Regions from separate parts of the Homo sapiens genome. Here all the other regions are reported to be linked to region 4. Evidence: microRNA targets listed by miRTarBase, many of them from high-throughput screens and not tested one by one. Region 4 holds a microRNA gene; each other region holds the end of a gene's coding sequence.
Evidence for each region. Region 4 holds the annotated microRNA hsa-miR-4701-5p (UUGGCCACCACACCUACCCCUU, at 4,035-4,056, shown strand). A microRNA usually pairs through its seed, bases 2 to 8, with sites in the 3' UTR of a target mRNA and lowers its output. Matches are read on the target gene's strand: a 7mer-m8 pairs with bases 2 to 8, a 7mer-A1 pairs with bases 2 to 7 and ends in A, and an 8mer does both.

Region 1 (5,992 bases), not on the chromosome of region 4:
CTTTTTTTCAAATCTTGCCGAAGCAGAGTTTTGAAAAACAAAACCACAAACTCAGCTATTCCCCAGAAGAAATCTGTTATCAAAGATAATCTCCATGGAGACTGACTCCAGTTGTCCAACACTTGTGCGTTTGAGATGTAAACCATCTTGCCCCCATTCCCTGCTTCGGAGCCTTATTTATTACTTTTTAAAAACAGGGTCTCCCTATGTTGCCCAGGCTGGCCTTGAACTCCTGGGTTCAAACGATCCTCCCGCCTCTGCCTCCCAAAGTGCTGGGATTACAGGCATTAGCTCCTGGCATTTTAATTTGTTTTCTTTTTGTTGCATGTTTCCTTTTTCTCTCCTTTCTTTATGTTGGATTGATGTATTACTATTCCAATTTTCTCTTTAATAGTTTGTAGGTTCTTTAAGTCATTACTCCAGGAATTTTAATAAGTCCAAATTTATCAATACTCTGACTCTCCTCTCACAGAATGCATTCAATTTCATATGCCCTCTTAAATTTAAAATACAAGATATCAGTTACATATTCGTTTTGTTTAAAAAAACCTCTCTAGGCTGGGCGTGGTGGCTCACGTCTGTAATCTCAGTACTTTGGGAGGCCGAGGTGGGCCGATCACAAGGTCAGGAGATCAAGACAATCCTGGCCAACATGGTGAAACTAAAATACAAAAATTAGCTGGGTGTGGTGGCGCGTGCCTCCACACCCAGCTAATACCAGTAGAATACCAGCTACACAGGAGGCTGAGGCAGGAGAATTGCTTGAACCAGGGAGTCAGAGGTTGTGGTGAGCTGAGATTGTGCCACTGCGTTCCAGCCTGGTGACAGAGCGAGACTCCGTCTCAACAAACAAACAAAAATCTCTCTGATGTTATACTATTATTTTGTCAGTATTCATTTACATTTACTCAGAACATTAACATAAATATAAGTGGTGTTCAAATAAACAGAATGTTTAGGTTTTGTCAAAGAGAAATACAGTGGGGCTGGGCGCAGTGGCTCATGCCTGTAATCCAGTGCTTTGGGAGGTTAAGGCAGCTGGATTGCTTGAGGCCAAAAGTTTAAGAGCAGCCTGGGCAAAATAGTGAGACCCCATGCCTACAAATTTTTTTTTTTTTAATTAGCTGGGCCTGGTGGTCTACACCCATAATCCCAGCTACTCTGGAGGCTGAGGCCAGAGGATCACTTGAGCCCAAGAGCTATGGATGGCATGACTACACTGCAGCCTAGGCCACAGACCTAGACCCTGTCTTAAGAAACAAAAAGGCCAGATGCAGTGGCTAACACCTGTAATCCCAGCACTTTGGGAGGCCAAGGTGGGCAGATCGCCTGAGGTCAGCAGTTCAAGACCAGACTAGCCAACATGGTGAAACCCCGTGTCTACTAAAAATACAAAAATTAGCCAGGCGTGGTGGTGTGCACCTGTAATCCCAGCTACTCAGGAGGCTAAGGCAGGAGAATGGCTTGAACCTGGGAGGCGGAGGTTGCAATGAGCCGAGATTGCACCATTGCACTCCACCCTGGGTGACAAGAGCGAGACTCCGTCTCAAAGAAAAGAAAAGAGTCCAAGCGTGGTGGCGTACGCCTGTAATCACAGCACTTTGGGAGGCCGAGGTGGGTGGATTGCCTGAGGTTATGAGTTCAAGCCTGGCCAACATAGTGAAAGCCCATCTCTACTAAAAATATAAAAATTAGCGGGGTGTGGTGGCACATGCCTGTAATCCCAGCTACTTGGGAGGCTGAGGCAGGAGCATCACTTGAACCCAGGAGGCAGAGGTTGCAGTGAGCCGAGATCATGGCCACTGTACTCCAGCCTGGGCCACAGAGCCAGACTGCATCTCAAAAAAACAAAAACAAAAAAAAAAAAAGAAAAGAAAAAGAAACAAAGTGAGACAATAGTAAAAGGCAGTAAAGACAGATTTTATTCAGTAATAACTACTGCATTAGGGAACAGAATCCAGTGTGAACTGAGCTCCACTTTGGGAAACAAAAATCAGGAGTTGTTGAAAATGTTGGGGTGTACTAAAGAAGACACTGAAAGGTGTTACGGGGGAGTTTGGTCCATATGACTAAGGCATCAGGTTTTTTTTTTTTTTTTTTTTTAACTAATTGGTATTTATCCAGAGTAGAAACAAACTTCTTGTATCTTTACGACTGAGGTAGTTGTGAAAGTTGGAGCAAGACAGCCACCAAAGTTAGGCCCTTACACTCCCACAGCAACTGAGAGGCTGGAGCAAGAGCTGGCTCTCTGAATGTTTGCATTTCAAACTCAGCTGAGGAGACAGCTCTTGGTGGTAGATTTGCATCTCAAAGGGGCAGAGAAATGGTTTATAATTGCAAGCTTTCTAAAGTAACTGCTTTAAGAGGGGGCTTAAGGACCTATCACTATTTACAGGTTTTGGCTGGAACAGTATGTTTTCAGAACAGCATTGAGCTTTCTCAGGCAGGTTTTTTTTTTTTTGAGATGGAGTCTTGCTCTGTCACCCAGGCTGGAGTGCAGTGGTGTGATCTCCGCGCACCGCAATTGCCACCTCCCGGGTTCAAACAATTCTCCTGCCTCAGCCTCCCGAGTAGCTGGGATTACAGGCGCCTGCCACCACGCCCAGTTAATTTTTGCATTTTTAGTAGAGACGGGGTTTCACCATGTTGGCCAGTCTGGTCTTGAACTCCTGACCTCCAGTGATCCACCCACTTTGGCCTCCCAAAGTGTTGGGATTACAGGCGTGAGCCACACTGCCCAGCTTACATCTGAATTTCATTCCAGGATTAAGTGTCTGATTCACCTAAACAGATCGGAATGAAAGCCCTCTTATGGTTTTTACTTATTATCTGTTTACCCAGAATGAATTCAAATTTAAAAAGCATAAAACTTTTTTGAATTCATTAAACTTGAATGGTTAATGGTTTTCATTTCGTCAAAATGCACTAAAAATAACACAAGTAATGATATTATTATATACAGAAGCTAATGTTTATTGAACGTAACAGTATATTTCATGTAGTTTCCCATAATTTTTTCATGTACTAACTCATGTAATTCTTTGTTTTTTAGAGATCTGAAGTGATTTTACCTTTACTTCCTTCACTTTAAGCCAATCATGAAATTTCAGTGATTTCTGGGGTGAGGGCGAAAGGTGGTGTTACGAATCATCGGGGCTGTGGCCCAGTTGCCTCACGGAGGTGCAGGTAGGCTGGGGCCTCACTAGGGCAGCTGGAGGAGCACGGACTGCCCTGCCGGCAGGCAGGTGATGTTCCGAGAGCATGAGAGCTGGTATGCAATGTCTTCTGCAGCTTCCAGCTTGCACAGCTCGCTCTGGCCGTCCCCTGCAGTGGCCAGTGAGTTGGCGATCAGCTCAGCTGCCTTGGAGTCACCCTCAGCAGAGATGATGGCCGCCTTTTCCACCACAAATCTGGCGCTCTCTGCTTCCTGGGGGGCCACCTGTCTGTTAACTCCTTCAAGAAGGTCAGATGTGTCAAAGACACGTCGTCCAGAATGAGCCCAAAGGTGGCTGCTCACTCCATAAGGTTGTTGCTCACCTGGCTGGAGACCAGCTCCCTCTGGGTGATTAGTTCTCCAGCATCAAAGCGAGCCACCAGTGACTTGAGGATCTCCGTGGTAATGAACGGCAGCACACACTCATCGTAGTCCTCTCCAATGCTGGTGAAGATGCGAGGAAGCTGGCTAGTGATGGGCCGGAAGAGGATGCACAGTGTGATGTTGACATTCTGTAAATCTTTGCTACCAGTGATGACTGGCGCACTACGTGGTTGAGAACAGCAGTCAAAGATAATTGGTTTTTGTACACATGGGATGAGAAAGTGAGTCCCTTCCCCTACCACAATGTTCTGTACTCCACGGAATTGGTCAAAGATGGCAGCTCTGTGCCCAGCATCCACATTACATAAGGCAGAGTTCACCATGCCTCCTGCAACAGCTAAGGCCAGGCCAAACTTGCCGATGGACTCAAACACTTTGGCAGCCATGTTTTCTTCTGCGGGACCCTCTCACACCTGCTTCCACTCTGACCTCCACATCTAACTCATGTAATTCTAACAGCACTATACTGTAGGTACTACTATCATCATTTATATATGATCCCCAGAAGGGATAAATATCTTCCCCCATATCATCCCAGCTATAGGAAGCAGATGTTGATCATGAGCATTAAATATGCAGAGTGGCTAAATAGCCTTTCCCATCATCGCTTATATCAACAGAGGTTTCCTGTGTAATGGCTTTTTCCAGGTTTAACAATAAATGATTGTTGCTGGAAGATGTTTACATGCAAGTATAAAGAATGGTTTCCTACGTTTTCTCAGTTTTCCTCTACTGTGAATATTTTGGCAATCCAAAACTAGAGGAATATCAGAAAAGTTTTCTTATGTTATTAAAAAAATACATTATAAATTCTCTGAATCTGAGTTAACACAGGTCATACCAAAGAAACTGCATATATGATTTACATTTTGAAAAGTTCACACCAATACAAATTGATGCCTAATAAAAACTGAACTGTATCTCAAAGCCATTCCACATTGTCTTCATTCAAATTGTTCAGTGGGATAAATCCATTGACACAATGTGCTTTCTTTACTACCTGTATATGCCACAATTTCTCTATCAAATATGAATTCTCTGATGTACTTCAAGGATGGATCTAAGCCTAAAGGACCTTCTGCATTTGTTACATTTAAAGGGTTTCTCACCAGTATGAACTCTATGATGTATACTAAGTTCATGGCTACTATTAAAAGCTTTCCCACACTCTTCACACATATAGGGATTTCCATCAGCATGAACGCTTTCATGTCTAACAAGATATGAGGCACAGTGAAATGCCTTCCCACATCTTTTACATTCATAGGGTTTATCACTGGTATGAATTCTCTCATGAATAATAAGATGTGAAGCATGACTAAAAGTTTCCCCACATTCTTTACATTCATAGGACTTTTCACCAGCATGAGTTCGGTCATGATATATGAGGCTTGTGGCATGACGAAAGGCCTTGCCACATTCCTTACATTCGTAGGGTTTCTCAGCGCTATGAATATTCTGATGGGCTTTAAGTACAGAAATGAACCTAAAAGACTTCCCGCATTTGTTGCATTCAAAGGGTTTCTTACCACTGTGAATACTCAGATGCTGAGTAAGTTGTCCAGATACACTAAAGGCCTTCCCACATTCCTTACATTCATAAGGTTTCTCACCAGTATGAACTCTGCGATGTATAGTGAGTTTATGGCTATAACTAAAACCCTTCCCACACTCTTGACATACATAGGGTTTCTCTCCTGTATGAATTCTCTCATGTATAACAAGATATGAGGCACAACGAAAGGACTTCCCACATTCTTTACATTCAAAGGGTTTGTAACCAGTATGAATTCTGTTATGATGGGCAAGGTGTGCACGCTGACTGAAGGCCTTCCCACATTCCTTACATTTGTAGGGTTTCTCACCGGTATGAATATTTTGATGTATTTTAAGGGATGAATTGAGCCTAAAGGACTTCCCACATTTGTTACATTCATAGGGTTTCTTACCACTATGAATACCCTGATGTCGAGTAAGTCGTCCATGCACACTAAAGGCTTTCCCACATTCCTCACACTTATAAGGTTTCTCAACACTTTCAAATGTATGAGGTGCAGTAAGTTGATGGCCACTACTAAAAGCCTCCCCATTTTCTTTACATTCATAGTGTTTCTCCCCTGAATAAATTCTCTGATGCATGGTAAGTTGATACCTACATGTAAAGCCCTTCCCGCATTCCTTGCATTCATAGGGTTTTTCTCCAGTATGAATTCTTTTATGACCCACAAGGTGGGAAAACTGACGAAAGGCCTTTCCACATTCCTTACATTCATGTGGCTTCTCTCCAGTATGAATACTCTGATGTACTTTAAGGCCTGCTTTGAGCCTAAAGGACTTCCCACATTTGTTACATTCAAAGGGCTTCTCACCAGTGTGAATACTCTGATGTCGACT
Region 2 (5,000 bases), not on the chromosome of region 4:
TTCAGCCAGTCCTTCCTCCGTGAGCAAGTGGGTCTCTCTGACCCTGGCTATTCCAGGGCCCCCTGGCCATGCCTAGCCTAATAGGACTCTTCATCCGTGAACTTCATGTTTATTGGAGCCCTACTAAGTGCTCAGCGTGTGGCACTGGGTAGATGGGGGAGAGTCAAAAAAAAAAGTAGGCCACATATTACTAACACTGGAATCTAGCAGGGAGGGTCTCACTGTCTCCTTCCTTCTGCACCCCCTTCCCCACAGCTGGAGGAACAGCAGACCTTAGAGGAGGCCATCAATGTGGCCACTGCGGCCATGCAGCAAGGGGCTGTGACCCTGGAGACAACAGTGTCGGAGAGTGGCTGCTGAGTCCAAGAGGGCTGGGTCCCACACCATGCTGGAGGAAGTGCCATCTGCATGGCCACTCTTGCCCCCAAGGGCCCAGGCTGTGGCTGACACATAGAAGGTGGCCACATAGGTCTCTGGGGTGAGAAGACAGCAAGAAAACTGCCTAACTGAAGGGAATGGGGGCCCTGCTCAAGAAGGGGGCCAGGCAGCTGGAATCAGGGGAGTGCATCATCCTCGGGAGCTGACAACAGCCAGGCTACACCAGGGCACCCGCCTCTCAAAATCAGCTGGGCGCCCACTCTCCTCCTAAAGAACACCCTTCTGGCCCTCAGTCTGTTCCCCTTCTCAGGTAGAGATTGGGGCTGCTATGGGGACTGGCCCTGTAGGGTTGAGCCACAGACAGCTCTTCAGCCCAGTAGCAGTGGAGCAGGCCCTGTCCTGCCCTCCCAGCAATAACCACCTCCCTGGAGGCCAGCTGAGATGCCTGGCTACTTGGCACCAGGGACTTCCTGACACCACAGTCAATTAATTCCTCAGGGGCCTGTGGCTGAAGAAAAGGTGCCCAGCCCCCACCACTCCTCAGCTGCCCCCCAACCTCTCTATGGCAGAGAGGCAGGGAGTGGCCCTGTACATAGACTGCTGGGGATTGGGTTTGATTTGTTTTGTTTTTTTTAATTCCATTTTGATAATTTTTTTCCTGCTCTGGGTGGTGGTGGCACATGGATGAATGAGTATTTAATAAAAGTTCCAAATTTCCACCTGGGTCCCTCCATCCTTTCAGCTCTAGGCCCGGGTGGCAGGGTTGGTCAAATCAGGCTATCAGCCCTGTCTCCCTGGCACAAACCCCACTCAGCCTTGGTGCCAGAGTGGTGGGGCTGGCCTGCCAGGGACACAGGTGGGAAGGAAGCCCAGTATAAGATAAAGCCCTGAGGAGCTGCTGGTGGCTTCTTGCCCACAGCTGAGCAGGTGGGCTCCAGGGTAGCCAAACAGGACCAGGGTGACCGCTGCTTCCAGGCTCTGGCTGAATCTCAGGCCTCATGTGATTGAGCTGGGGGAACTCTTTTCCTGCCTTTTCTTGTGAAACGTAGTCAGAGCCCCTCCAACCCAGCCACCCCCAAATCACACAGTCAGCTTCTCCAAGAGGGCAAAGCCCCAGGTTAGAGTGAGGCTGGGGGACACCTTTGCCAAGGTTACTGAGATTCAAGGAGCAGAGTCTGATGCCTCTGGAGCTGAAGTCTTGGCTCTATTACCCAGCTCTGGGGGTGCCCACCTAGGTGCCTAGGACTGTGCTGTGGGATTTCAAAGCCACAATCAGACCCCACTGAAAAGTGAGTTGGTGAGACCAGATCAGCTCCAGGGGGAAGAAGGGATACAGGGGAAGGCACTTGATGGGAAGAAGCTCTGGGTTTGACTCTGCCTACACAGGAACATTGCAGGGATTGGTGGTGCCTCTTTTCCTCTCTCTGCTGTGATGGATATGCCCCAACCCCTTCCTGCCTCCTAGGATTGGAACCCCCTCCTCTGATCCAGGCATCCTCTCCCAGGATGCCTAGAAAGCTCCCATTTACTCTTGCCACCAGCTCCTTGGGAAGAGAGGGGCGGGGGCGTGCTTCCAGGCAGGAGGTATTCCCAGCACCTTACTTGGAGGGATTTTTATTTGGCTTAGGGGGTAGGGGGAGGTGTCTTAGAATTGGCCTGAGCAGATGTCTTCAACATCTGTGACCACCATTCCTGGTGTGGGCGTGTCCCAGTCCTTTTGGACACTGGATCTGAAGAAAGGAAGCACTGACATGGAGGGCCCTGAATCCCAAGCCTGCTGCTGCTGGGACCCTTAAAGTTGAGGTGCACCACAAGGCTCACCCCCATGTGTTTCAGGAAGTTTCCAGTGTCTTCAGGGCTACTGGGGCTAGAGTGGGCAGTGCTCTGAGTACCGTTTAGAGCCAGTGCTGAGGGGATAGGGAGCCAGCAAGTCAAGTGCCACATCCTGACCTGGAGAGGTGCCCTGGCCCATTTCCTTCTCCAGCTTTGTGATGTTGCCTTTGTTTCCTTCCACTTGGATGGAGTCCCACCACCATGGTAATGTTAAGTAGCACCAAAAGCTCTACCCAGAGCCTACTATGTGCTTTACGTCCATTCTCAGACATTCTTACAACACGGAGGCATTTTTCCTGCTTTACAAATGAGGAAACTGCTCAAGGAGGTTAAGTAACTTACCCAAGGCCTCCTATGTTGAACTAGGACTGGACCTTTACTCTGTCTGACCCCAATATCAGGATGAGCTTGCTTTTTCCCTCAGCAAGCTGCGTCTGGGAGCCCTGGAAGGCTCCAGAAGCCTCCGGGTCTGAGGAGGCTTCTAAAAGGGCCTCACATGCCCCGGGAGCCACGTGGATACAGAACGAGGGTTCCCGCTCTCGGAGAGTTGGTCCCCAGTTCCCATGCAGGGAGTGGAGCCTCTGAGCACTGCCAGAACAACAGGCAGGGTTCTCGACAGCACAGAGCCTCACGCAATGTGCAGGCAGGTGGTGCTCTCGCTCCACCACGGCACCTCTGCGGTCTCTGCAGCCGTTTGCATTTCCTGAAACCGGATCTTAGTGTCAGAGCCGCCCCCAGCCGGGCGGGCGCCTCAGCCATGGCCCTGCGCAAGGAACTGCTCAAGTCCATCTGGTACGCCTTTACCGCGCTGGACGTGGAGAAGAGTGGCAAAGTCTCCAAGTCCCAGCTCAAGGTGAGGGGCACCCGGGACCCGGGGGAGGACGGCAGATGCACCACACCAGCCCCTGCCGCCTGGGAGCCAGGTGTGGACACTGTGCCACTCCAGGGGCACCCAGCCATCCAGCGTCCCGGGCCTGGGGTCGGGGGGCTGGTCCTGGGTAACTGGGCCAACGTAGCCTGGTAGATGCCGCTGCCCACCCTCCAGAGACCTAGTGAAGTGTGTGCAGAAACCTTGCGCAGAACTGGGCCCCACAACTGGAGGCCAGGAGGTTCTGAGGGCCATTATGGGGTTCTGAGGGCCAGGAGCCAGGCCACATCCCAGACTCTGTGTGATGAGCACACACACCTCCACAGAGTCATGCTTGGGCACGCAGTGTGCTCTTTCTTGCTGCTTCCTCCTGACTTTCAAGAGAAACAGTTAGCCAGTGCTTGGCAGTCATTTCCTCTGGAGCTGAGAGAGGCATAAAGGGGCCGCCCCCAGTCCCAAACCTGTCTGGCCTGTCTAACCCTGCCCGCCAGGTGGGACAGAGCTGCGGAGTGGGTGAGGACTGAGGACCCTATTATACTGCTACGCAGCTCACCCCCCTATCCACCACACATATCAGGTTGGGAAACTTACCTTAGGCCTTGAGACCTCAGGTAGGGAAGGGGGAGAATCTAAGCCCAGGAAAATCCCAATCAATGATTGTCCTGAAGTCAATCATCTGGCCTAGACAATTTCTGGGAGGCCAAGGAGTTTTTCTCTCTCTTCCTCTAGTCCTCCAGTAGTGCTGCCTTCCCTACCCTAGTTAGTGGGGAGGAAGCAAGGCCCTCAGCCACTAGAATCAGCGAACACTGGGGGAAAGGAGCAAGGTAGGCCTCAGCTCTCTAGGACCTGCCATAGGGGTGCCTTCGTTCACTCTGCAAGTACTTGAGTGCCCCTCGTGAGGCTCTGTGCCTGGCATGTGGCTAGGCACTAAACTGGTGTCTCCCTGCCCCATCCTCCAAAGGAGACGTGTGGTCTCAAGGAAACCTCCATTCTTAATGACCGAGGTAGAGGGTGCTGGATACCTGAGAGATGAATGGGACAGAACAGTTATTGTGCCCCACCACCGTTCCAACCCCCTACTTTACTGAACTTGGATGTGAGGAACTTGAATATCCCAAACTGGTCCTATGTTAAATTCCTTACCTGGATTTGTGAGCATCTAATAGATGATTTCACTCCCCCAGGAAGGAGAGCCCACTACTATCTTTTGTCACCTAGGGAGAACCTCCTAACAGGCAGATTCTTCCTTACATCCTATTTAAATCTCTTGTATTGCAGATCATGTCATTTGGTTGGGTCCTCAGTATAAATGGAAAAAAGTCGATCATCCAAAATCCATTTCTGCAAACTCTGTGTCCCACCCCTACCTCCCACCCTGTCCCTTTAATATCTTGCCAGACAATACCAGCCCCCGTGGCTTTTTGCTTCCAGGGTAACATTTTCCACTTCTGTATTACCTGTGGCCACTGAGACCTCTCCAGGCTCTCTCTGCCCTTCACATGGAAAGTACAGCCTTTAAGTGGCTCCCCTTTTCCTGGTGCCATCAGCCAGTAAAGCCTCCTAGCTTGAGCCTCTGTCTTGCCCTCTAAAAGGGCCACTACCCACTCCCTCATCCCCACAGGTTGCGTATTTCTAGGGAAATACTCCATGGAGAGCTTGCATGCTTGAACTGTCCACTGTCTGTACCTCATCACAGCTCATATTGAACCTACTGCCAGCAACATCTCTGGTCACACAGGATCAATTATAGAGTTCCCTCCTACTTGACAGAAAACTTGTCAACTCTGGAAACCTGGGCTAACAGTGGGAGTCTCAGGGGCCAAGTGGGGGTGGGGCGGAAATGGCGGGGCTCCTTTCAAGCCCATAATAGTGAATATTGGAAGAGGAGGAAGTAGTGATAGTGTTGGGGGGCGGGGATTCC
Region 3 (5,992 bases), not on the chromosome of region 4:
CTGCCACCTGGGTTCAAGCGATTCTCCTGCCTCAGCTCGTGAGTAGCTGGGACTACGCCCGGCTAATTTTTGTAGTTTTAGTAGAGACGGGGTTTCACCATCTTGGCCAGGCTGGTCTTGAACTCCTGACCTCGTGATGCACCTGCCTCAGCCTCCCAAAGTGCTGGGATTACAGGCGTGAGCCACTGCAACTGGCCTAAACTTTTTTTTTTTTCTTCTCAAAGTCACCCAGGCTAGACTGTTCTGGTGCTCTCATAGCTCACTGCAACCTCAAACTCCTGGACTCAAGCGATCCTTCCACCTTGGCCTCCCAAAGTGCTGAGATGACAGGCATGAGCCACTGTGCCTGGCCCCATTTTAACCATTTTTAAGAATACATTCCATTGACATTAAGTACATTCACATTGTTGTTCAATAATCAACGTCATACATTTCCAGAACTATTTTCATCTTCCCATACTGAAACTCTGGACCCAAGCATAATATTTTTAAGGTTCATCCATGTTGTATCATGTATCACTACTTTATTCCTTTTTATAGCTGAGTAAGATTGCCTTGTTTGGGTATATTGCCATTTTGTTCATCAGTTGATGGACATGAGTTGTTTCCACTTTTAGTTATTATGAGCATTCATGTACAAGGATTGGTTTGAACATGTTTTCTTTTTTTCTTTTTTTTTGGGATGGAGTTTCACTCTTGTTGCCCAGGCTGGAGTAAAATGGCATGATCTCAACTCACGGCAACCTCCGCCTCCTCTAGAATATTGATCCAGATCCAGATTTCTATATTAACCATCCCTTGTTTCTTCTGAGCTTCAGCCAGAGATCACTGGTTGGTTCACAGAATAAGTAGGGTTAGTCTAAAATACAGACAAAAACTTAAAAACAACTAATAAAACTAGAATTTAATGACAAGTGTGATAAGTTTTGAAACTCTCCAGTCTTCATTTTTGTTAAAAACAAATCATAATAGGATTGTTTGCAAAATAAACTTTAGTCTTATACTTGGCCTGATTATTTGCATAAAGTACAGCAAGAATAATTATTTTTCACATATGCTTTTAAAATTGGCTCTGATGGAATTCTGTTCCATAAGGAATATCAGAAAAGACTTTTTAAAGTCAAGCCCAGCAATGGGTTTGTACCCTCCAATACCTATGAGTTGGGTAAATTCCTCTCTTCTTGAGGTCCCAAGATAACTTGGGGCTCCTGGACCTGTTAGAAAGTGACATTCTTTACTCATCACAGGTTAGGAGCCCTGTACAAGGACTGTGTAGACAAGGTATGAGGCCAGTTTCTCCTTTTTTTTGGCTCTGCAAGTCAAGCTTGATTCCTTAAAGGGAAGCACACCCTTCTATCAGAAACTGGTAAAACCACCAGTTTCTCCAATTGTGTCCTGTTGCAAAAGAAAATGGATTCTTGTTGCACTTATGCAAATAACTACATTGCCATAAGAATACTCACAAATAGTTTCTGAATTCTAGAGAAACCAGCAGAGGAACAAATACACTCCAAATTTTGTTCACAGGAGTATACCTTACTCAATTGTTAAAAGCTGTAAATAGCTCAAAATAAAAGTTTTCTTGACTCTGAAAAACAAAACATCAGCAAAGTTTTAAGCAAAAAGTTAAACAGATTACATGTCTTCTATTAGTTCAGCCCATTCAGTTAACTCTTGCTCTGCTTGATATTCATGAATATTTCAGCTCTTCATGAGTCCTGAATGTTTTTCCTTTATTCTAATATCACAATCTAAAGATATTGGAAATATGCATTTAAGAGCACCTAAGTTCTACAGCTGATTATAAACCACCTTTTGAAGAGGATCAAAACAAGACTACGATTGTCTGTGAATCACAAGATGTCTTTAGACAGTCACAGTCAAAAACACAATTGACAAAGAAATTTCGTTATTTCTGTGGTTTACAATAACTTAACATAATAACCCTAATTATAATTGATATCATATACTCAGATATTAGAATTTTAGAAATCTTATACAATTTTGGAACATATATTAATATATATATTAATGTTATTCACTAAAATGTAACCTGAATAAGATTAAACATTATTCTTATTTTGGCAATCCCATGTAATTAAACATGTCAAATAATCCAGGGGCCCTCTATGGCATCCAAAAGTTAGGGGTCAAAAAAGACAATCTTGAAGCTAAAGTTCGATTTGGGGAAGCCTACTGAACATATTAAAGGTTTAAAACACTTGATATTATAAAATAGAATTCCAGGTTATCATTAGCCAAAATGATGACTCAAAAACTTTTTTAAAAAGCACAAAACCTTTACCCATTAAAAGGGAAGACAACTTTCCAAACAATTTGTCTCTTGCCTTTCCCTTCTTTTTTTGGTAGTTTATTTGCAAGGCAAACAAAAATCTTTCATTATCCTTTACTATTACATAAAAATCTTGTTCAAGACAGAGTCAAATGTCATCCTTGCATCAGTCTACTATTAATGTCATCCCCAATTTTTAATAATACCTTATAGATAAATCTATCCAATCTTAACTAGTTTGACCATGAGGTGAGATTCTTGTAAACCTTTTATAACCCTTTACAAATTCTTGTTAAAGAGCAGATCAGTACCTTAAGAAAACCTTGTTGTGCTTTTATTTCAAGGTTCAATTTACAGAAAAACCAAATAATACCCTTTTGAATTTAATCAACGTGTTCACACACAGCATTTATTTTGTAAGATTAATTTTTACAAACCATCCACAACTTGTTCAAACCTTTGGCTTTATCCTATCTAATTTCAAACAAATGCCCAGCCTTAATTTATTACAATTATGATTCGTAGACTTTCACTCAATTACATAAATTCACTCTCGGTTGAGGAAAAGAGAGAGGTGGCAGAGGATTAATCCAAAGGATCCTGGTGTCCACTACCCTTCAAAGCCAGACCCTGGTGGGGCAAGTCCTGCCAAGTCATCAGGTGCTGATTAAATGCAGGGCACTGGGTGGGAAGCAAATTCCTAAAATGTGGTTCTTTCCCAGAAGCATCTTATAATCTAGCTCAGGGGCTTGCAGCTCCAACTCACTCCGGAATCACCTGGGAGCTTCTGAAACCATTCTGATCCTGAACTCCACCCTAAATAAATCAAAACTCTTGGTCCATAAACTGAAAAAAAAAAGTTTAATCTCCACAGGACATTCTAATGGGCAGCCAGAGAGGAGATCCACTGATCTAGGTTTTTCATAAATTACTTAAAAATTTGCAAATTATAAAATATTTCATTAAAGTATGAAAATCTGAATCAGTTTTGGGGGATTTTTTTGGGGGGGAGGTGGTAAAAGACCTTAAGGAAAAGGTTGTAATTCAATTTCACAAATAATCCACAACTTAGTACATCCTTTGATGGAAGCAACACCCCCGTCTTAGTCTGTTCAGGCTGCTATAACAAAATACCACAGTCTGGGTGGCTTATAAACATCAAACATTTATTGCTCACAGTCCTAGAGGCTGGGAAGTCCGTGATCAAAGTGCTGGCTGATTTTGCTTGTGAAGGGTCTGCTTCCTCAGAGAAGTCTCATACTTCCCCTTGAAGTCTCACACTGTGGAGAGGATGAGGTATCTCTCTAGGGCCTTTCATAAGGCACTGATCCCATTCATGAGGGCTCCACTCTCATGACCTCACACTTCCCAAGGGCCCCACCTTCTATCAACTTGAGAGTGAAGATTTCATCGTATGAATTCTAGGGAGACACAGACATACAGACTGTAGCACTCTCCCACCCATTATCACCCACAATTCAAAACAGAAACGATGATCTTTGACTTACTTGATGGACTTCATAGTTCTGCTTGGCCAATCTCAAATACTCTCATGTTTCCAATTATCTTTTGTTATCAGTAAACCAAATTGTTTTTTCTCCTAAAGATTCCTGTTACATTATTAATGATTTGTCCTTGAAGTTTTAGGAGAAAATGGGCCTGGTGAAGTGGCTCACACCTGTAATCCCAGCACTTTGGGAAGTCGAAACGGGAGGATCACTGAGCCCAGGAGTTAGAGACCAGCCTGGCGACATAGTGAGACTTCGCCTCTATAAAAAAATAGAATTAGCCAGCTGTGGTGGTGCACACCTGTAGTCCCAGCTACTTGGAAGGCTGAGGTGGGTGGATTGCTTGAGGCTAGGAGGTCCAGGCTGCAGTGAGTTGTGACCCGGCCTGGACAAAAGAGCGAGGCCCTGTCTCCAAAAAACATAAAATAAAATAAAATATATATATATGCATGTAAAAGAAAAACATGTATATAAAAGAAAATTAAGTATGAGACCAAACAAGGCCCAGCTTCGTTTGCTGTAACTTGAACAAGGCTGGTGACCTGTTGGTCTCATGGCAGAAAAAACAACCCAGAGAAAAATCAACACTGCAGAGTTTAAAAAAAAAAAAACAAACCTTATAATTTATTAACAAAATTCACATTGTACAAAAGTACAACGATAACTGTACACCTGTTTCTCTGCAAATGTCACTTGGTAAATTACTATCATCTTTTATAGACAGGCAAAACTGGACACACTTTATAATCTTTCTGATAAATATATCGCCACTCTGCATCCGGCCTGGATAATGCTCTTCAGGACGGCATAGGCTGGAGCCTGTTAAAAACAATAAGCAAACAAAGAAACATGTTATGTGCTCATTTTCGGTTGTAAGATTCAGGGCTGGCAGGGCAGGCTTTGGATTTCTCTGGATAAGAAATAGATCTAAGGAACAATTTATTTTAGTTTCAAAGAAAGCTATTCAAAAGGTCGGAATGCCTCTGCTACTACTGCCAAAGCATTGGAGTCATCCAGATTCTCACAGGAAAGGAAATGAAGCTCCTGGGAGACCAAGGCAGGCAGCTCACCTGAGGTCAGGAGTTCGAGACCAGCCTGGCCAACACAGTGAAAACTCGGTCTCCACTAAAAATAAAAAATACAAAAATTAGCCAGGCATGGTGGCATGCACCTGTCATCCCAGCTACTTGGGAGGCTGAGGCAGAATTGCTTGAACCTGGAAGGAGGAGGCTGCAGTGAGCTAAGACTGCACCACTGCACTCCAGCATGGGAGACAGAGTGAGACTGTGTCTGGGAAAAAAAAAAAAAAGCTTCTGGGGAAAAGGAGAAGGCATAAAGCAAGAAAGGAGATTCCCAATCTGGAGCAATAATGCGTTTGCTTGCTTTTTGTCAAAGCAACGTCATTGGTTTTCTCTCCCTTTCGCTGTCACTTTAAAATGTATTTTTCTGGCAACAGAAACCTCCTGCCCCTTCAGCCTCCCAAATAAGGAGTCCCAAAGCAGAACAGGTAACAGTAGGGCCCTACCAATTCTGCATCATGGTCGAGGCCTATGTCATGGTGCTCAAGCTCTTCATCCCGAAATTTCTTTATCAGCTGGTTAAATAAAAAGACACCAAAGCAAGTTAGCCTTCCAACTCTCCTGCTGTTCCATTTCATTTTGGAGGCTAAAGCCTCTTATTATGGCCTAAGACAGGGAGGCCAGCTTTTCCTCTAAAGGGCCAGAGAGTAAATACTTTGTTGCAACTACCCAACTCTGCCACTGTAACCAGAAAAGCAGCCGGAGACATGCAAACAAATGGACGTGCTTGTGTTCCAATAAAAGTTTATTTAAAGAAACAGGTGGCTGGCCACAGGCCATAGTTTGCCAACCTCAGATTTAGACTCTAAAAAACTAAACAGTTCCCTTATTTGCTGTGGAAAATTATCTCAGGATATCTATTCATTTATTCAATCTAAAGGGTTCCTGCTCACAGCATCTGCTCAGAATCTACCAATGATAAAGAAGTGGGCCGGGCGCGGTGGCTCACGCCTGCAATCCCAGCACTTTAGGAGGCCAAGGCAGGAGGATCACCTGAGGTCAGGAGTTCCAGACCAGCCTGGCCAACATGGTGAAACCCCGTCTCTACTAAAAATACAAAAATTAGCTGGGCGTGGTGGTGCATGTCTGTAATCCCAGCTACCTGGGACGCC
Region 4 (5,992 bases):
CCAAGCTGCAGCGGACTCGGGCCAACTCCATGGAAGGGCTGATGCCGCGCTGGGTTCCTGATCGTGCCTTCTCCCGGACCAAGGACTCCAAGGCCTTCCGCCAGATGGTGAGGGGCCCTCAGCACCAGACCTAGGGCCTCATTTTCTTAGCTCCCTCAATACCCTGTCCCTGACCCTGTCCTTTCTTGTGACTGCCATTTCCATGTATGCTTTCTGGTATTGGGGCAGTGAGAAGATTTCATCTCGGGTCCCAGTGCCCCCAGAGGATATGACGGGGACACCCTCAGCACAGTGTTGGGGTGGGGGAAGGAGCTGCAGAGATGAAGGTTGTTGGCCCTTCACCTCACTCCACACTCTGTCCCTTTCTCCAGGGCATTGATGATTCCAGCAAAGACAAGTAAGTCAGGTTACTGAGGAGGGAGAAGGCACTTGCACCCTGGGATGGGGCTGGGGGGAGCCGAGATCCTCCTTTTCCCTGACCTTAGGAGTGTTGTGTGGGAGCAGGAGCCACCCCCCTGGCTCTCCCTCCCTCCCTCAGGTGCTGTCCATACCTTTCCTTTCATTGTTTCTCACATGGCCATGCCCATGCAACTGGTGAAACCATGTCTCCTGCCCTCAGCCGGGGCACCCAAGATGCCCTGAACCCTGAGGATGAGGTGGATGAGTTCCTGAGCCGTGCCATCGATGCCCGCAGCATTGATCAGCTGCGGAAGGACCATGTGCGCCGGTTTCTGCTCACCTTCCAGAGAGAGGATCTTGAGAAGAAGGTTTGAGGGATACAGGGCAGAAGGACAAGGGCTGGGGGAGGGGCAGGTCGCAGCAGGGAAGGCTGAGCACAGGTGAGGGCACAGGTGTTTCTGGGGGATGGAGAAGGGACCACAGAGCAGGGTGAGGATTTCATCAGTTGAGCCAACTGCATCTCCTCCCTGTTGAGACCCCTGGTAGTGCCCTGTCCTTGCTGTCCCTGCCTTCCTTAGGGAGGGCCCAGCACTCAGCTCAGCCTCCTCTCCCTCAGTACTCCCGGAAGGTGGATCCCCGCTTCGGAGCCTACGTTGCCTGTGCCCTGTTGGTCTTCTGCTTCATCTGCTTCATCCAGCTTCTCATCTTCCCACAGTGAGAGCCCTGCCTTTCCTCTCTTAGCTTCTCTCTTCACCACTTCCCAGAAGCTTCCTAAATACCCACACAAGCCCACAATCCCTGGAGCCTGCATCCCTGCTTGTTCCAGAGGGTGGGACAAGAATGCCCAGATCTTCCAGAATTAAATGATTTTTCTGGCCCTGTTCTGCCCCAGCTCCACCCTGATGCTTGGGATCTATGCCAGCATCTTCCTGCTGCTGCTAATCACCGTGCTGATCTGTGCTGTGTACTCCTGTGGTTCTGTACGTAAGGGGATTTCTGAGGCTGTTGGGGAGGGCAGGCTGGACTCCAGACAGGGAGGAGGTCACATGGGGAGAGGGAGAAGGCCATGCCTCTTCCACTGGGCCCCATCCCTGGTTGCCATTCCTCCTTGGCTGATACAACCTTCAACTCTTGGTCTCTTGATGCCTCTAGCTGTTCCCTAAGGCCCTGCAACGTCTGTCCCGCAGCATTGTCCGCTCACGGGCACATAGCACCGCAGTTGGCATCTTTTCCGTCCTGCTTGTGTTTACTTCTGCCATTGCCAACATGGTAAGGGTCCAGTGGGAATTCTCCCACCTCTGCTCTGTGCCAAGCACTGTCCTGGACACTGGGAGTACAGCGGAGAAAAGGACATATTTTCTGCCCTCAGGGAGCCCCCTCCCAGAATAGGGGAAGGTTAACTCCGGTTCTCCTTCCTTGTTCTCCCAACCTCTTGTCATCCCTGAGTGAGTACTAAGGCCCATGGGGTATAAGGTACCTGGGCATAGCCCAGGTTAGGGTACATGGCTTCACCAGGTACCTTGCAACCCTTTCCCTCCTTGGTTACCCTGATATACCCCTCCACTTTTGCAGTTCACCTGTAACCACACCCCCATACGGAGCTGTGCAGCCCGGATGCTGAATTTAACACCTGCTGACATCACTGCCTGCCACCTGCAGCAGCTCAATTACTCTCTGGGCCTGGATGCTCCCCTGTGTGAGGGCACCATGCCCACCTGCAGCTTTCCTGAGGTGTTCGAGCAGTGCTCAGGCGGTGGGGGGGCTGTCCTGGCACAGACATTGGCCCTTCTGTGCCAGGCCTGGTGATGGGCGCTGGGGACCCAGGAACTCACCAGAGTCTCCCACACTAGGAGCAACCAGGGGCCCTGGTGTGTTGTAGGGGCTGGGCATGGAAGGTGGAGGATATGGGGGTTTGAGGGGTGTGGTGGGAAGGTTAGGTCAGGCAGGAGAGTGCAGGGCTCTCCCTGCCCAAGGGTGCTGTGGCCTCTGCCTTCACCCAACGCTGCCTCTGCCACCCCCGCAGTACTTCATCGGGAACATGCTGCTGAGTCTCTTGGCCAGCTCTGTCTTCCTGCACATCAGCAGCATCGGGAAGTTGGCCATGATCTTTGTCTTGGGGCTCATCTATTTGGTGCTGCTTCTGCTGGGTCCCCCAGCCACCATCTTTGACAACTATGACCTACTGCTTGGCGTCCATGGCTTGTGAGTTTATTCTCAGGTCCTTTAATACCCCAGGAGCTTCCCTCACCTTTCTAGGTCACTGTGAGCCTCTCTGGTGCCCATGCCCCTTGTGCCTTGGAATGCCACAACACCCCTGTGGGGGAAAGGGAGGAGATGGAGGAGCTCCCAGCATGTGACCCCAAATAGTTACCCCCAAGGAAACCCTAGTCCTGGGAAATCCTTGTGTCTTTAGGCTAGACATTAAAAAAAAAAATTCCCTCTTACATTTGCATGGTGCTTTCACATCCACCATCTTAACCACCTATAGGACATACAGCTGCTTGGTGGCAGGGCTCTGGTTAGGAACCAAAGCTTCTGATTCCTGCTTGGGGGCTTTGCCTGGGACACCACACTGGCTTTTCCTCTGCAAAACCCCATTCCTTTGATATGTGGCCATAGCTTGTTGTAGTAGAAAAAGCCTCTGGTCTCTGCTGGGTTTGAATCCCTGCTCTGCTGCTCATTAGCTGTGTGACTTTAGACAGGTGAGTTAGCTTCTCTGAGCCTCAATTTCTTCATCTGTAAAATGGCAATGTCACCTAAATCACAGGGTAGTTGTAAAGATTATAGTAACTAACATTTATGGAAGGCTGACTATATGGCAGGCACTGTGCTAAGCCTTTTACATACATTATTTAGATCTGATCCCTGTTGTACTGATGAGGAAGGAGGCTTAGAGAGTTAAGCGACTTGTCTCAGGTCACATAGCTGGTAAGTAGAGGAGTCTCTAAGAGCAGAGGTTTTCTTAACCTCTACTCTTAATGAGTTAATTAATGTAAGTAAAAGCCCTGGCCCAATGCCTGACTTACAGTATGTGCTCAGTAAATGCAGTCTCTTGTCTCCCCTTCCATGTGCCCACCCAGCAATCCAGGAAGCACTGATGACTTTGTCTCTTCTATCTTCTTACCAGGGCTTCTTCCAATGAGACCTTTGATGGGCTGGACTGGTAAGTGAGGGCTCCGAGGCAGCAAAGGGTAGAGCCATTAGATGCCTCCTTCAGACACCAAGCATGTCTCTGCTTATCCTTAGTCCAGCTGCAGGGAGGGTGGCCCTCAAATATATGACCCCTGTGATTCTGCTGGTGTTTGCGCTGGCGCTGTATCTGCATGCTCAGCAGGTGGAGTCGACTGCCCGCCTAGACTTCCTCTGGAAACTACAGGTGACTGTGTGGGCCTTTGGGGGAAGAGGAGGAACCTAGGGGCGGAGCCTGGGCCAGGCCAGAAATGTATCTTGTGCTAGCTGGCTAAGGCTCAGGCCACACCTAGGCCCACCCTGGTTCCATTCCTTCTCTGTGCCCATCCCTTACTCCCTGCCCCATCCTCTACCTGCCCCCTTTACCCCTTTGCCTGTTCTTTAGGCCTCATCTGTCTGGGCCTTTCTTTCTCTATGTGATTCCCTCTTATCCGCACTTCCAAGCCTTGGCCACCACACCTACCCCTTGTGAATGTCGGGCAATGGGTGATGGGTGTGGTGTCCACAGGCAACAGGGGAGAAGGAGGAGATGGAGGAGCTACAGGCATACAACCGGAGGCTGCTGCATAACATTCTGCCCAAGGACGTGGCGGCCCACTTCCTGGCCCGGGAGCGCCGCAATGATGAACTCTACTATCAGTCGTGTGAGTGTGTGGCTGTTATGTTTGCCTCCATTGCCAACTTCTCTGAGTTCTATGTGGAGCTGGAGGCAAACAATGAGGGTGTCGAGTGCCTGCGGCTGCTCAACGAGATCATCGCTGACTTTGATGAGGTACTTTTCCAGTTGGCTGGTGGTGGCAGAGAGTGGGGGGTACTTGGAGACCAGGGATTGGAATGGGTGAGTGGAACTGGGAAGAGAGAGAGAGATTTGATGGGACCCAGAGTCATCAGGGGTAAGGGTATGCACAGTGGAGGCAGAGGCAAGAACCCATGAAGGTGTCAGAGGCAGCAAGGGGGTCAGCCCTAGTGGGGCAGGGTCATCACTGTTGGGGAGCAGGGGAGGACTTGATCTGTAGGGGGATAGGATAGGTACCAGGTGGATGTCACTGAAGAAGAAGGCAATAGTCTGTGGACAGAACCTCATGAGACCAACCAAGCAAGATGGTCCTCTGAATAGAGAAAATTGAAGCAAAATGTGAGGTAGTGTCCTGAACATCCAGATCAGGAATGGGCTGTTCACTGTTCTGGAGGGAAGTCACTTGCTCACTCTGGGACTCAGTATCCCAAAAGGTAAGGATTGGAGAAATTGCTTAATATTGCACTTGTGGGTCTGTGTTCTGTGAGTGAGCTACTGGAGGGACCTTCTGAAGCTGTATGCCCAAGTCCTGCCTGGAGTCCTAGGCTGCCTGTTTTCCCAGCTCCTCAGTCTTACACTGATAGCAGCAGCTGGAAGGGGGCTCTTGAGACAGGGAAGTGGGGAAGGCAGCCAAGGCGTGGCAAGAAATGAGTGTTGGGGCAGGGCTGGGTCTGGGGTCTTTGCCTTGACAGCCAGGTCTCCTTGTGTTGTTCAGATTATCAGCGAGGAGCGGTTCCGGCAGCTGGAAAAGATCAAGACGATTGGTAGCACCTACATGGCTGCCTCAGGGCTGAACGCCAGCACCTACGATCAGGTGGGCCGCTCCCACATCACTGCCCTGGCTGACTACGCCATGCGGCTCATGGAGCAGATGAAGCACATCAATGAGCACTCCTTCAACAATTTCCAGATGAAGATTGGTAAGAGGGCTTTGTTGCTTGGCGGGTTTTCCCAGGACTTTTTCCAGGTGAAGCTGGGATTATAGGCTGGGGATGGGATCACAGATTTCCCATCAGGGCTCCTGTGGGGTTTTCTTCCCTCTGACCTCCTATATCAAGTCTGATATTAAGAACAGAGATCATTAGGCACTGTCCTATAAATTTTTGAGCATATTTTAATCCTGATACTATTATCGCCTTTCATTGGATAGAGACTGACTCTCAGAGAGATTAAATAACTTGCCCAAGGTCAAACAACTAGTAAGTGGCAGAGCTGGGATTAAAAATCAGGTTTATATAAACTTGAATACTTCTGTCCTTATCTGTGACCAGTCCAATAAGAGGTATTTCCTCTCAAATGAACTGGTGGATGGGAGTGGTTAATAGCATGGCTACTAGAGATGGACTATTTGGTTTGAATTCTGGCTGCTCCATTTACTGGCTTATTTGAGAAGTCTTCTAACTTCTCTAAGCTTCAGTTACCTTATCTATAAAATGGGGATAATAATACCTACCTTTTAGAGGTGTTGAAAGGATGAAGCCATGCCGGGCGCGGTGGATCATGCCTGTAATCCCAGCACTTTGGGAAGCCGAGGTGGGCAGATCATGAGGTCGGGAGTTCAAGACCAGCCTGACCAACATAGTGAAACCCCTTTTCTACTGAAAAAAA

Region 1: the mRNA of ZNF607 is a reported target of hsa-miR-4701-5p. The part of its 3' UTR that is shown has no 7-base or 8-base seed match.
Region 2: miRTarBase lists ZNF76 as a target of hsa-miR-4701-5p. Seed matches in the 3' UTR shown: 7mer-m8 at 458-464.
Region 3: miRTarBase lists COQ7 as a target of hsa-miR-4701-5p. Seed matches in the 3' UTR shown: 7mer-A1 at 3,824-3,830.

The regions. Positions count from the first base shown.
Region 1 is chr19:37,693,419-37,699,410 of GRCh38, forward strand. It overlaps ZNF607 (zinc finger protein 607), which reads right to left. Exons shown (of 5, transcript NM_032689.5): 5 at 2,953-5,992. The coding sequence ends at 4,622. It also overlaps the pseudogene SELENOKP1. Among named protein-coding and RNA genes, the nearest start is that of ZNF607, 23 kb to the right of the region's middle. RefSeq lists enhancers at 1,758-2,433, 3,110-3,784.
Region 2 is chr6:35,294,889-35,299,888 of GRCh38, forward strand. ZNF76 (zinc finger protein 76) reads left to right here. Exons shown (of 14, transcript NM_003427.5): 14 at 256-1,097. The coding sequence ends at 360. DEF6 (DEF6 guanine nucleotide exchange factor) reads left to right here and starts at 2,930. Exons shown (of 11, transcript NM_022047.4): 1 at 2,930-3,064. The coding sequence starts at 2,969. RefSeq lists a silencer at 1,267-1,431.
Region 3 is chr16:19,076,709-19,082,700 of GRCh38, reverse strand. COQ7 (coenzyme Q7, hydroxylase) reads right to left here. Exons shown (of 6, transcript NM_016138.5): 5 at 5,327-5,395; 6 at 2,606-4,620. The coding sequence ends at 4,543. Among named protein-coding and RNA genes, the nearest start is that of COQ7-DT, 12 kb to the right of the region's middle.
Region 4 is chr12:48,770,078-48,776,069 of GRCh38, reverse strand. MIR4701 (microRNA 4701) reads left to right here and starts at 4,033; the gene lies at 4,033-4,095. It overlaps ADCY6 (adenylate cyclase 6), which reads left to right. Exons shown (of 22, transcript NM_015270.5): 9 at 1-107; 10 at 372-397; 11 at 620-767; 12 at 1,016-1,113; 13 at 1,292-1,379; 14 at 1,552-1,668; 15 at 1,972-2,130; 16 at 2,423-2,601; 17 at 3,527-3,562; 18 at 3,646-3,775; 19 at 4,097-4,360; 20 at 5,100-5,304. It also overlaps a transcript of SPMIP11 not described here.